2 separate regions of the Homo sapiens genome follow, and region 1 is linked to region 2. Evidence: fine-mapped expression QTL. Tissue or cell type: left ventricle. Region 2 holds a variant in brackets; the other region holds the start of a gene. All regions are shown on one strand. Distances are between the middles of the regions.

Evidence for each region. PIP is the estimated chance that this variant, and not a neighbour inherited with it, causes the effect. A credible set is the group of variants that fine-mapping cannot tell apart.
Region 1: LINC02348 starts here. The variant in region 2 is the best candidate, but not a certain one, in a credible set for the expression of LINC02348 in left ventricle (GTEx, PIP 0.57).

The regions. Positions count from the first base shown.
Region 1 is chr15:101,612,147-101,616,534 of GRCh38, reverse strand. It overlaps LINC02348 (long intergenic non-protein coding RNA 2348), which reads left to right and starts at 2,196. Exons shown (of 3, transcript NR_147041.1): 1 at 2,196-2,585; 2 at 2,761-3,000. RefSeq lists enhancers at 1,851-2,367, 2,368-2,886, 3,705-4,205.
Region 2 is chr15:101,591,310-101,595,697 of GRCh38, reverse strand. No RefSeq gene overlaps it. Among named protein-coding and RNA genes, the nearest start is that of LINC02348, 21 kb to the left of the region's middle. The variant T/AAT (reference allele first, on the strand shown) is at 1,998.

The sequences.
Region 1 (4,388 bases), 21 kb before region 2:
GGAAAGCTTTCAAATGAGGCCAGCTCCTTATGGAAATGAGGCTCCGTCATTTTTCCCTGAGTGGCCTAAACCCAATGTTTACTTGTAGCTTCTGTGCAATGAGCTCAATATCACACGTATTATATTGGATCCTGATAGTCTGATATTTTATGGGATGTCTCCTAGATCTTCTTTGCTGACCCCAGCGGTCCCAGCCCAGATTCCAAGCTGAACAAGTCGGGCTGCTTGCTCTGTGAGCAGTGGAGTCCCTGCTGAGCTTGGGCAGCTTTCCCGAGGCCCCGCCCTCTGGCCTCCTGCCCTGCTAACAGGCACGTACTCTGTGGATGGGACCCTGAACCAGTTATCTCAATGTCAGGGGGAATTTACTTCCAAGAAACTCCCCTCTCCTCCCAACTGTGTCCATTCATTCCTGCGGAGTCCGCACGTGGGCTGCTCTTCCTCTGGGTTCCCGCCCCTGAAGGCGCAGGAGGCTGTGACCACGCCCCTTTTGGAGCCTTCCTGGGCTCAGGGAGGGGCTTTGCCTGCGGGTGAGTGTGTGTGAGTGTGTGATGCTGATGACACACACACGGCCCTGCCTCGAAGGAGGCATCTGGGACCGAATGGGCTTGGGCGTCCCTCATGCATTCTACCGACATGGACATGGGCCCCTGGGAGGGTCTGAGCTGTGGTGGAGGGAAGCCCGGACACAGGTCTTGCAGAAGAGCTCAGCCACCCCAGAAAGGACCTCAAGGGTGGGGCCAGGAGTGCAGGTGGGGGCGCTGGCTGGCTGGGAAGGGGATTTCACATAGGAGGACCAGGCAGAGGGAACACTATGTCCACAGTGCATGCAGCACTTAGAGGGAATGCCACGTCCACAGTGCATGCGGCACTTAGAGGGCAGGCCACATCCACAGTGCATGCAGTACTTAGAGGGAATGCCACGTCCACAGTGCATGCAGCACTTAGAGGGAACGGGACAGCTGGCAGGGCTCTAGCCAAGGACAAAACAGCCCATTCCGTTCCCAGACTTTGAGTCAGCGTTTAGGGTTTTGCCTCATGATGGGCCGTGCTGAGGAAACCAGTCAAGATGACCTGAACTCAGACCCCTTCCGCAGTGTCTCCTTTGTCCTGCTGAGCAACTCTGCTGTTCTCCTGCAGCCCCTCCAGGCCAGCCTCCCTCTTCTACTCAGGGCGGGGTCCAGTCAGTGCACCCAACTCCGGGGCTCCTCAAGGCTCTCCTCCCTGCCTCTGATCTGGGCTGAGGTGGAGCAGATGTGAGGAGAGGTGGGGGGGGGAGCCCCCTTCTGCATTCCCCATGGTAGGAGCAAGGTTGACATCCCAAAAGCTCCTGTCAAACTGTCCCCAAAGCTCCTGGACAAGGACTCCTCCCTCGCCATCTCCCTGATCAAACTCACCCTTCCAGAAGGGCTCAGAGTGGCATCTGGGACAGCCCCGGTTAAGGTCTCATAGACTATCTGCTCTCGGGCACGGACCGGCATCTTTAGGATGTGAGATACTCGGCTCTTACTGCTGTCAGTGTGGGGGCCTCAGCTGGGACCACACACCGCATCACAGCCTGCTACACACACGGAAGCATTTTCCCGAGTCCGACTGTGGAACTGTAATGAATCTCAGCTGCCACTCACAGCTGCTCACCAGCGTTCTCTGCTGCTTTTAGTGGCTTTGTAGGTTTCCATTGCAGAGCTCAAATTATTTAAGCAGCCCTGGTCTTGGGTATGGAATTTTGCGGTCACAGCAGGCTGGGAGGGGATCTTTTGCTGATTCCTTTGTGCACAGGTGTGAAGAGATGTGTAGGAGAGTCCTGAAGGTGGTTTCTTATCTAACCTGCATCCGTGGAAGAGCGTGTCCTGGTGCCTGGGTGTCGGGACCCCATAAGGACCATGAGCTACCCCTTTGCCAGGGCTGGGACTGTGGATGGTCATTTGCAGCCCAGACCCACGAGGTGTTTCCCAAGCATGGTGGCACCTCCCTGTGGCTGTGCCTGGCTCCTTCCAGCTCTCCCCAGTGGCCCATAGGCTTAGAAACATGTAGAGTGTGTCCCAGGCAGGGGGCCAGCCTTAAAAAATGCCAGCCCATCTCCTCCATCCACGATGACATCACCGGTACGGGCTTGTGTGTAGGTGACCTTTGGTGGCCTGATCCTCCTGCCCTCTGCCTGGCTCCCTGGGCTCTGGTGGAACACAGCTGCCCTTCCTAATTTGGTCTTAATCAGGCTGAGCTAAGCCAGTCTGTATTTGAGGAGTTGGAAGCAGGTGATTCGGGCACAAATTTGAAGGCTGATAAACGGCAGCCGTCACCCGTGCACTCAGAGCGGCCAGAAGTCCTGCTCCTGGGGAAGGAGGAAGGGCGCAAGGGCAATGAGCATGTCGCCTTGCCCTCGGGGTGTGCGGTTTCTGCTCAGCCTCCTCTTGCAGCCTTGTTTCAAGTGTGGGAATGGCCTCCTGACTCCCAATCCGAAACAACTGCTGAGCACAGAAGGCAGAGCAGGGCCCTGAGAGTCAGAGGAAAATGCTGCTGCGGGGACTGGGGAGCCCCATCGGGTGACTCCCCAGAGATGTGAGCAGGTGCAGAGGCTGGAACAACAGGTGAGGCATGTGGGACCAGGAGGCCGGGTTGTGGGAAGCAAGGCATTTGTGGGAATCCGGGTTCCCCAGTGACACTGGAACCCTTCCTGCAGTCCCTGATATTCCTGGGGCTCGTCAGGGCTTCCCGTAACAGCCCAGGATTAAGTTTGTTCTCTTCCCTACCCCCAACACGCAGTGCTGCAGGAAAGTCTCTCCCGTGGATGCTGTGGCCTGGGGCTTGGGTGACGACGTGCACGGCTGCCTCCTCGCTGTCACGTGCTCTGCTGGCTCGTCTCCAAGCTGTGCTGCTCATGTTCCAAAGTCTCCCTGGAGGCTTTAGTGAAAAGCCCTTTCCCCGGTGACCTGGAGTGTCTTGCTAGATGGAGCTGGCCAAGCCTGACGTCTTTTCCTGGCCGATGCCTCAGTCCTTATGCAAGTAGGTGCAGCCACAAAAGGCACCTTCATGGGAATTAGGAACAGAGGATGCCAGGGCTGGGTGTCTCACCAGTGACTGCTGGGCCAGGGAGCAGACCCCGTGCAGACCTGCCCAGGCAAATCTGCTCCCCAAGTAGGGTGTACCAGGGGAGAGGGGAGGGCTGCACAGACCCCTGCTTCCAACATGCAGCTCTTTTGGACACTAGGTGGGGAGGAGGTGGGCTGGCATTTCTTTAAGGCCGCTGCCTGCTTTGGACACACTCTCATGGTTTCTCAGCCCGAGGGCCACTAGAGAAAGGTAGAGGGACCAGAGACTGCTGGAGTAAGAGTGCATGCACAAGGGACAGCCCCAGAGAGGTACCGCCATGCTGCCATGCCTGGGAAATGTGCCTCATGGGGCTTAGGGGGACCATCCACAGTCCCAGCAGCCCCAGCCCCTGCACAGGGGTCACCCGTGGTTTTTATGGGGTCCCGACACCCAGGCACCAGCACACGCTCTTCCATGGAGATCCCATGGAGAGGGATGCCTGCGTGGAGGCCACAGCACTTCTACCAGACCCTGCCACCAGCAGCCAGGCTTGGGAAATGGGGTGGGGGTGGCGGCAGCCTGGCCTGGTCACCGACATTAGCAGTCACCTGCCCAAGGCCATGTGGGGAGGGAGCAGCAAGGAGAGGCCGAAAAGCAAGCTGCGGCCTCAACCGGCCCTGGGTGCCCTCCCAGCCAATATCCAGAGGTGCCCAGCCGGAGGGCCTCACTCACCAGGGCCAGGGCCTCAGCCAAGCCCCAGGTCCCCTCCCCAGCACCCACGGAGGTCATCTTCAGAATTTCAAACGTTTGTCAATGAAGTGCTCCCAATGGAGGCCTCACCAAGCCTCAGTTTGGAAGATCTGAGCAGGTGCTGCTTCCAATTGTGCTTGGCTGTCTGGAGAGTCTCTTCTAAGAAAGTCCCTGCCCCGGGGAGCAGGGGTCAGGTGGTAATATAGCAGTCACGCAGAGAGGAGGCTGGGGCATTGGAGGACAGAGGAGGAACCAGCTCCGGGCTAGGAGAGGGGGAGCTGCGTTGGGTTCGCAGCCTTTGCAGGCCCCACCCAGGGCCCTAGTGTTGCTTTAGGAGCTGGGCAGCCACAGCTGGTGGGATGAGAGTTAAGTCCTGCAAACAGCAGCCTGGCTGCACTCACTGGAGAGCGAGAGTGGGTATGACCCAGGGTGGTGGTGATGCCGACAAGTGGCTGCACCCAAGGACTGTTTAGGAGTGAAAACCAAGCAGACGGTGGGAGATGGGCATGTGGGGAGCAGGGGTGTCCGGGAGCACCCAGGCTTCTGGATGCACAGTGGGAGGAGGATGGTAGAGGGGACTTGTGGGCCCGGGACCCGTATCGAGCAGTGCT
Region 2 (4,388 bases):
GTTCATAGCATTAAATGCCTACATCAAAAAGCATGAAAGAGCACGAATAAACAATCTAAGGTCACACTTCGAGGAGCAAGAGAAACAAGAACAAACCAAACCCAAACCCAGCAGAAGAAAATAAATAATCAAGATCAGAGCAGAACTAAATGAAATTGAAACAAACAACACAATAAAAAAAATGAAACAAAAATCTGGTTCTTTGAAAAGATAAATAAAATTGATAGACCATTAGTGATATTAACCAAGAAAAGAAGAGAGAAGAGGACTTATATTCCAAATAAGCCCAATTAGAAATATAAGGGGAGATATTACAACTGACCCCACAGAAATGCAAAAGATCATTCAAGGCTACTATAAACATCTTTATGTGTGTAAACTAGAAAACCTAGAGAAGATGAGTAAATTCCTGGAAATATACAACCCTCCTAGATTAAACCAGGAAGAAACAGAAGCTCTGAACAGACAAATAACAAGCAGTGAGATTGAAATGGTGATTAAAAAGTTGCCAAAAAAAAAAGTCCAGGACCAGACAGATTCACGGTTGAATTCTATCAATCAGATATTCAAAGAATTGGTACCAATTCTATTGAGAGTATACCAAAGATAGAGAAAGAGGGAATCCTCCAAAAACATTCTATGAAGCCAATATCACACTAATACCAAAATCAGGAAAAGACATAACAAAAAAAAATAACTACAGACAAATACCCCTGATGAACATAGATGCAAAAATCCTCAACAAAATTCTAGTTAACTGAATCCAACAGCATATGAAAAAGAGTCCACCATGACAAAGTGGGTTTTACAGGAGGGATACAGGGATGGTTTAATATCCACAAGTCAGTAAATGTAATACACCACATAAACAGAATTAAAAATAATAAGCACATAGTCACTCAAGAGACACAGAAAAAGCATTTGACAAAATCCAGCATCCCTTTTGGTTAAAACCCTCAGCAAAATCGGCATAGAAGGGATATACCCTAAGGTAATAAAAGCCATCTATGACAAACCCACAGCCAACATTATACTGAAGGGGGAAATTTGAAAGCATTCCCCATGAGAAGTGGAACAAGACGAGGATGCCCACTTTCACCACTTCTATTCAACATAGTACTGGAAATCCTAGCCAGAGCAATCAGACAAGAGAAAGAAATAAAGGGCATCCAAATCAGTAAAGAGGAAGTCAAACTGTCACTATTTGCTGATGACATAATTGTATACCTAGAAAACCCTAAAGACTCATCCAAAAAGCTCCTAGAAGTGGTAAATGAATTCAGCAAAGTTTCAGGATACAAAATTAAGGTGCACAAATCAGTAGCCCTGCTATACACCAACAGCAACCAAGCTGAGAGTCAAATTAAGAACTCAACCCCTTTTACAGTAGCTGCAAAACAAAACAAAACAAAACAAAACTTGGGACTATACTTAACCAAGGAAGTGAAAGACCTCTACAGGGAAAACTACAAAACACTGCTGAAAGAAATCATGGAAGACATAAACAAATGAAAACACATTCTATGCTCATGGGTGGGTAGAATCAATATTGTGAAAATAACCATACTGCAAAAAGCAACCTATAAATTCAATGCAATTCCTATCAAAATACCACCATCATTCTTCACAGAACTAGAAAAAAAAAATCCTAAAATTCATATGGAACCAAAAAAAAAAAAGAGCCTGCATAGCCAAAGCAAGACTTAGCAAAAAGAATAAATCTGGAGGCATCACACTACTTGACTTCAAACTATACTATAAGGCCATAGTCACCAAAATGGCATGGTACTGGTATAAAAACAGGCATATAGATCAGTGGAACTGAATAGAGCACACAGAAATAAAGCCAAATACTTACAGTTATCTAATTTTTGAGAAAGCAAACAAAAACATAAAGTGGGGAAAGAACACCTCATTCAACAAATGGTGCTGGGATAATTGGCAAGCCACATGTAAAAGAATGCAACTGGATCCACATCTCTCACCTTATACAAAAA[T/AAT]CAACTCAAGATGGGTCAAAGACTTAGATCTAAGACCTGAAACCATAAAAATTCTAGAAGATCACACCAGAAAAACCCTTCTAGACATTGGCTTAGGCAAAGAGTTCATGACCAAGAACCCAAAAGCAAACACAACAAAAACAAAGATAAATAGATGGGACTTAATTAAACTAAAAAGCTTCTGCACAGTGAAAGAAATAATCAGCAGAGTAAACAGACAACACGCAGAGTGGGAGAAAGTCTTCACAATCCATACATTTGACAAAGGACTAATATCCAGAATCTATAAGGAACTCAAACAAATCAGCAAGAAAAAAACCAACAGTCCCATCGAAAAGTGGGTTAAGGACATGAACAGACAATTTTCAAAAGAAGATATACGAATGGCCAACAAACATATGAAAAAATGCTCAACATGACTAATTATCAGGGAAATGCAAATCAAAACCGCAATGTCATCCTTACTCCTGCAAGAATGGCCATAATCAAAAATCATAAAGTGATAGATGTTGGTGTGGATGTGGTGAAAAGGGGACATTTTTACACTGTTGGTCAGAACATAAACTAGTACAACCACTGTGGAAAACAGCGTGGCAATTCCTTAAGAACCAACGTAGATCTACTGTTTGATCCAGCAATCCCACTCCTGGGTATCTACCCAGAGGAAAAGAAGTCATTATACGAAAAAGACACTTGCACACGTATGTTTATAGCAGCACAATTTGTAATTGCAAAAATCTGGAATCAGCCCAAATGTCCATCAGTCAACAGGTGGATAAAGAAGATGTGGTATGTATATGCCATAGAATACCACTCAGCCATAGACATGCTCAGCATTTGCAGCAACCTGGATGGAAGGGCAGGCCATTATTCTGAGTGAAGTAACTCAGGAATGGAAAACCAAATATTGTATGTTCTCACTCACAAGTGGGAGCTAAGCTATGGGGACACAAAGACATAAGAATGATACAGTGGAATTTGGGGATTTGGGGGAAAGAGTGGGAGGGGCTGAGGGGTAAAAGACTACACATTGGGTACAGTGTACACTGCTCAGGTGATGGGTGCACCAAAATCTCAGAAATCACAGATCACCCCTAAAGAACTTATTCATGGCCTGGCGTGGTGGTTCACGCCTATAATCGCAGCACTTTGGGAGGCCGAGGAGGGCAGATCACGAGGTCAGGAGGTCGAGACCATCCTGGCTAACACGGTGAAACCCCGTCTCTACTAAAAATACAAAACATTAGCCGGGCGTGGTGGCGGGCGCCTGTAGTCCCAGCTACTCGGGAGGCTGAGGCAGGAGAATCGCTTGAACCCGGGAGGCGGAGCTTGCAGTGAGCCGAGATCACGCCACTGCACTCCAGCCTGGGGACAGAGCAAGACTTTGTCTCAAAAAAAAAAAAAAAAAACAAAACTTATTCATGTAATCATACACTATCTGTTCCCCCAAAGCCTTTTGAAATAAAAGAAAACAGAGAAAGTAAAACAGAAGTAACAGGAAATGAAAAATAAAAACCCCAACATATCAATACTTAGGTCAAATGTAGATGATGTGATGATTGATTAGGAAACAAATTGGCAGAATGTATGAGAAAACATGACTCAATAACATGTTCTCAAAAAGAAATTCACTTCAAATTAATGATACAGGTAGGTTGAAAGTAAAAGAGTGGAAAAAGATATTGCATGCAATATCAACAAAAGACACCAGGCGTGGCTATGTTGATAGCAAAGAAAGTAGACTTTAGAGAAAATAAAATTACCAAAGACAGACAGGGAAATTACAGTTATAAAAGGGTTAATCCAACAAGAAGACATGGCAATCCTAAATGTGCATGTACCAAACAAAAGAGCTGCAAAAATATGTGAAATAAAAACTGATAGAACTAAGGGAGAAACACACACACCCACAATTATATTTGGAGATTTCAATACCCCTTTCTCAACAATTGATAGAACAACTAGAGAAAAAATTAGCAAAGACATGGAAGAACTCAACAACACCATCAACTGACAGGATCTCTAACATTTGCAGAACGCTCTACCCAGCAACAGCATAATACATATCGTTCTAGTGCCCACAGAACATATAGCCACATAGATCATATTCTGGCCTATTAAAATAAAAACTTAGTAAATAAAAGATTGAAATAATACAGGGTGTTTTTTTCAAGCACAGTGGAATCAAACTAGAAATCAATAACGGAAAGATAGTGTGAAAATGTCTAAATACTCAGAAATTGAACAACATACTTTCAAATAATCCTTGGATCAAAGAGGAAGCTACCAGGGAAAATTTAAACAAAACCCAAAAACAATGAACTGAATGAAATGAAAATACGACATATTAAAATTTGTGGGATGCAGCTAAATAACTAGCAGGCAAATATA